Regions from separate parts of the Homo sapiens genome. Here region 1 is linked to region 2. Evidence: fine-mapped expression QTL. A gene starts in region 2. The other region holds a variant in brackets. All regions are shown on one strand. Distances are between the middles of the regions.

Region 1 (2,913 bases), 140 kb before region 2:
ATTTTTGTATTTTTAGTAGACATGGGGTTTCACCTTGTTGGCAAGGCTGGTCTCGAACTCCTTAGGTGATGCACATTCTTAAGTGATCCACCCGCTTCGGCCTTCCGAAGTACTGGGATTACAGGCGTGAGCTACCGCACCCAGCCCATTATGGTTTAGAGATAGGTATTCAGATGAGGGTGGAGGAAATGAGATATAAAGAAATGAAGGAAAATAGCACTGACTCCAAGGAGGTGGTCACTTAGTAGGGGATATGACATATTTACCAAAAATTATAAGCCAGGTGGAAAATGTTAACCCCTCTCTCTCTCTCTCTCTCTCTCTGTGTGTGTGTGTGTGTGTGTGTGTGAGAGAGAGAGAGAGAGAGAGAGAGAGAAATAGAGAGATAGAGAGAGAGAGAGAGAGAGAGAGAGGCTAGACAGATACAAATGAGCTGCTGTAGGAGTCTGGAGGGAAAAAATAAAACACTCATTTCCAGGAACGGGAGGTATCAGAGAATAAACTGGGTTGGTGTTGAATTTATCCTTTAAGGACAGCTAAGCTATTGACCAGAAGAGATGGAGAAGAGAAGATGGGCATTTGGAATTGGCAGCATCAGGGTGAGCAATCTCATCTATCATAGGCCCTCCCCAACTCAAGCACTAAGTAGTTCCTAGATGGGCCAAGCATGTCAAGCCTTGGTAAACTATGTCCTTGTCTCCTAATTCTTAAGTTCTATATTATTAGACCAATAATAAGAATTATTAGAAATTGGGGTTCCAGTTCTATGACAGTAAAACATCAAAATTCACCATAAAGAAATGAAAATAAAATGATATCGATTTTTGAAAATACATATACATATCCAAGTCCTTAATATAAAATTTAAGTTCTGTTTTAAATGCTCCTTTTGGGGGATGTTTTTCTGCATGGAATGAACTTTCTGAGGCTTCTTAAAATATGTGCCCAGTGAAGTTTAGACTAAGGATGCTTTTTCCTTTTCCTGGTAAATCTTCCAGTCATAGGATAGCCTTCTTCATCGTTCCTTGGACCTCTGAACTGCAGTTCAGAATTAGTCATTTATTTCAAGAAGCTTAACACTTAATCTGTGTGCATGTATGTAAACAATAGATTATGCTTTAACAGTAAACAGTAGTGGAGGACATTTTCCATGCTGACTTTAGCTTTCTGTTTGGTGTCAATTTTTGGTCTCCGTG[G/A]GAGCAGAAACTGTCTTGCTGTTTGTTCTTTGTCAGCCTAGAGTCCGGAGCAGTGCCTTATCCGTGGGAGGCATTCAGTGTGCGTCTGTTGAAATGATGAAAGGATCATGGGAACGAAATCTTGGCTTCACTTGGGCCAATTTAGAAGAAAAAAAAATTTATTTATTTTAATAAGGAAAAAGAAGATTAAAATGGACATTGTAGGGGTAATAAATTCAATAGCTTTTTTGTTGTTGTTTGTTTGTTTGGTTGGTTTGGGGTATTTTTTGGCTTTATCCCCTAGAAGTACTAAGATGATCGTTTGCTGGAAGAGAAGCCTGTACAGTCTATAGGCTTGATCCAAAGCTGCTGGTAAATCAAGCATTCATTTTTCTAAAGTTACATAAATGAAAGAAACGACAGGATTTAGAGGATCCAAGGGCCTCTCTTAAGAAACACGTTGACATAAATGTGACCTGCGGAGATTGTGTGCCCCCCTCGAGTGTCTGGCAAGCACCTTCTCATCTTTCAAGACAGCTCGAATGACACCTCTGGGAGGCCCGCAGGCTCCCTGTGGCAGTTGTTTATGCTGCCCTTTGTGTTCCCCAGCACTCTGTGCAAAACTCTCTCAAATATCACTAATCACACTTCACCCGGTTATCTGTTTACATATCTGAATTCAATTTGATAAAATTCAATTCCCATTGCAATGCCCTAAGTATTTGCTAGGGCAATGCTAGATTCAAAGGTTCAATGGCAAATTCAAAGCCTCTGGTTGTTTTTTTTTTTTCTTGGATAGGGTCTTGCTCTGTTGCCCAGGCTGGAGTGCAGTGGCATGATCATGGCTCACTGCAGGCTCAACCCTCTAAGCTCAAGCCATCCTCCCACTTCAGTCTCCCTGTGAGTAGCTGGGACCACAGGGGTGCGCCATCATGCCTGGCTAATTTTCTAAAAATTTGTGGTTAGAGATGAGGTCTCACTATGTTGCTCAGGCTAGTGTTGAACTCCTGGGCTCATGCAGTCTTCCCGCCATGGCCTACCAAAGTGCTGGGATTACAAGCATGGGCCACCGTGCCTGGCCCCCTGGCTTTTAGAAGCTACATCCTATCATGGAGGACAGACAAGATACAACTACTTACAGTTCTCTGTTAAGAGCAGGAGAACCTGAGGCAGCAGAGAGGTGACAGGAAGGAGGAAGTGACCATGAACTCCTGAACAGTATGCTTACTTCATATCCTCACCCCTCAGCACAATGTCTGGCATGTAAAAAGTTCCATGCATGTTAATGGAGGGAGGGAAGAGGAAAGGAATCAACAAAATGCCCCTACCCCATCCCCATCTCTCTGCTATTTCTTGTCAAACTAGTTACTCTAAAGTTGGTGTTTTCAAGCTCCTGGAAGAGATATCTTAGAGCATAGAGTTGATGATTCAGTCCTCCCTAGCATATAGTACAGTATACAACAATCACATTTGATGGAGACAAGTCATCGTTTGTCCTGTGTTTAACTGTGGTCCCATGGCACCTGTTCATAAACACTACACTCCCAGGAAGTCTACAGGAAAGAGACTTGCAGACAGGTTGCATTTGCTGAACCACTAGCACTACACCAACCTAATTCTTAAGTTCTGTATTATTAGACCAAGAGCTCTTCTACCATCACAAAAGGATTTAGCTAGAATTTTGCTTCCCTCAGAACCTCATTTGCCATCCAGTTTCCCATTTCTCTGCCAGCTTCAT
Region 2 (2,913 bases):
GCAATTTTCTCTTGAATATACTGAACAAGGATTCCCTTTTCCCAAAGGATAAAGGAGACAGTAGTGAAGGAGTCTTCTCTTTGTTGACTTTTTAAAAATTACTCAAAACTGACTGTTTTATTCAGATTCCTGAGTCACAAACAATGCCAAAGAACTGTGAGCCATTTTTTATATAATTCCACAATTACTATAGGTGATTTTTAAAGGAAACATTGATTTAACTCACAACTTAATGAATCAAAAATTTGCCACAGGATATTTACTAAGAATCTTTTTCTAAAACTGCCTTATCCTTTGTATTCTAACCACTCCCTCTCCACCACCACCACTTACCACCCCCAATACACACACACACACACACACACACACACACACACACACACACTCCCTCACCTACACCAGATCAGTTTCCCAGCCATTATTCCTAAAACCATATTAAAATTTCACAACACATGGTCGTACTTACTAGGTTTTCTTCCCCCTCCCCCTCCACTGAATCAATGTGTCTTGAAATATATATTCTCTTAAAATTCAGAATTCAGAAAATGATTACGATGTCTCTAACTCAAGAACACATATTATAAAATTCAAAGTCGGCTTCTGTTTACTGATAATCATGAAAAAAAAAAAGCCATACCCCACCCACCGTATCCGTAGGGTTAGGAGGTCCAATCTCGCCACTACAGAGCTCTGCAAGAAAGGACGGTTATAGTGCCAGGAAAACCATCGCAACAAGCCCCGGGCGAAGATAAAGAAAACAGATTTTACACCACGGGCAGCGCGCAGTCTCCTGGCCCCGGCCCTTGGTAAACAGGGGAAACCTTTGTCTTGCCTCAGCTATCAAACTGGTGGCTCATCAGAATTGGGGCAACAAGAGTTTGTGCGAAACGGTCTGGCAGAGGTTAAACAAAGCAATGCAGCTCCGGGGGCGGTGGGGAGAGGGCTGAGCCCGGACGGCGTCCGCGATCCCGGACGGTGAGGTCTGGTTCTGGCCCTTGCCGCGGTCGGGACCGAGCCAGGGACCTGGGGACAGGATGGCGAGGCGCGGGAAGAGGAGAAGGCAGGCGAGGTCCCATATTCTCCGCAAGTTCCCGGGGTGCAGCCCGGCGGCAGGTTCCCCTGCGGGGATCCAAAGCGCGCAAGCCGCGCGCAGGTTCCTCCGGGAGGGTCCGCGCCTCCCACATGGGGACACCGCCCCGAAGCCCACCGCCCGCCGCGCCGAGCCCACGCCCCCGGGGCCAGGTCCCCTGGAGTCCCGGGGCGCTGCGGGGGCCCGGCCCGGAGGGGCGCGAGTGGAGGAGAGAAGCCCGCCCCTGTCCCCATTGTCTGGCTCCGGCCGCGGGCCGAGCAGGCGCTCACCTGAGGTCCCCGCCTGGCGCTCCGGCTGGCAGAGCGGCTGGCCGGCGACCGGCGGTCCCGGGCGGGCGGCGGACTCGGCGGCACTGCGCGCGGCAGCCTCCGCATCAGCAGCCGCCGCGGCAGCAGCACCAGCAGCGCACCCGCCTCTCAGTCGGCCGTGGCCTCCATTGCTCTCCCCACTGCCGCCACCGCGCGGCACTGCGCGCCCGGCCCCGCGCGGCGTGGTCACATGCTCCGCCGGCGCCTCGGGCGCTCGGACCCGCGCCGCCGCCCCGCCCGGCTTCGCCCAGGGACAGCTGAGCGTGAGGCGCCGGCTTCCTTCTCGCGCCCTCCGGGAGTGGCGCACACCAGATGGCTCCCCTCCCCAGGGGTGCCCAGAAACCAGGAGCGGGCCCCAAGGAGGGGCGTGGGGTTGACCAGTGCCCTCCCGGCTTCTGCAAAGCCTGACTCGAGGGAGTGCTGAACTCGTGGGGTCTGAGGTTACAGTGGTGGGCTCACAGCGAGGCTCATCCTGCGTGTGGCGAGAACATTGGACCATCAGTCACCACCCCACAGGTTGCAAATTCGGTCCCTGTTACCCGCAGCAGTCTCTCTAATAGGAGATACCGGGAGCCCAGGAGAAGTTTCGCCCTGCAGAGTCCCAACCACAATAAATGGCACTGGGACTCCTGAGAGTTGAGTAAGTTGGAAAATGCCACCTAGAAATAGAAAGGCTAGAAATTGCATTGCTGAGTCCCTGTACATCCGAACGGAGTGACATTGACAATGTGCATTATTGTCCCCAGCCATAATGAAATTAAATATTGATTTTGATGCTTTAAGGAAAATGACTTCTCCTTTTGTGGGCTAACGAAGAAAACAAGACTTTTCCTTCATACTTTTTGTTGTGACTATGCCAGTGCAACTACTGGAAATCAGTTTCTGGTGATCTTTTTAGTTTACTATGTATGCAAGGATGCTAAAAATAATTGAATATCATTATTAAACAGGAAATTTTAAAGCAAAATGACTAGACAAAAGATGCAAAATACGAAAGATAGCCCTAAATTATACCCAGTATTGAGCCAGATGTCCCAAATGCCAAAAATAGGACTAGTAATTTCTTTTCTTTTTTTTTTTTTTTTTTTTTTGAGACGGAGTTTCTTGTTGCCCAGGCTGGAGTGCAGTGGCGCGATCTCAGCTCACTGCAACCTCCAACTCCCGGGTTCAGGCGATTTTCTTGCCACAGTCTCCCTCTGAGTAGCTGGGATTACAGGCGCCCGCCACCACACCCAGCTAATTTTTGTTTTTATTTTTAGTAGAGACGAGGTTTCACCTTATTGGCCAAGGACTAGTAATTTCACTGCATGACTTAAAGGAGCAACCTTGAGACTGGGAGAATCTAGTGCATGTTACCTTATCCAACTGGTTTATTCTAGATAAACATTTAAGTTAAATATCAGTATAATATATGGCTTTGTATTTTCGTGAATATAGATACTTAGTTCAGTGTGCACATATCCTAAACTATGTCTGCTTTATTCCAAATTAGAATAATGCAGAGTTTTAGAAAGG

Evidence for each region. PIP is the estimated chance that this variant, and not a neighbour inherited with it, causes the effect.
Region 1: its variant is fine-mapped to the expression of CRACD in nasal epithelium (TOPMed, PIP above 0.99).

What each region holds. Positions count from the first base shown.
Region 1 is chr4:56,186,123-56,189,035 of GRCh38, reverse strand. The region is part of intron 2 of CRACD (capping protein inhibiting regulator of actin dynamics); the gene reads right to left. Among named protein-coding and RNA genes, the nearest start is that of CRACD, 140 kb to the right of the region's middle. The variant G/A (reference allele first, on the strand shown) is at 1,197.
Region 2 is chr4:56,047,746-56,050,658 of GRCh38, reverse strand. CRACD (capping protein inhibiting regulator of actin dynamics) reads right to left here and starts at 1,561. Exons shown (of 11, transcript NM_001393381.1): 1 at 1,360-1,561. RefSeq lists an enhancer at 990-1,665 and a silencer at 1,196-1,835.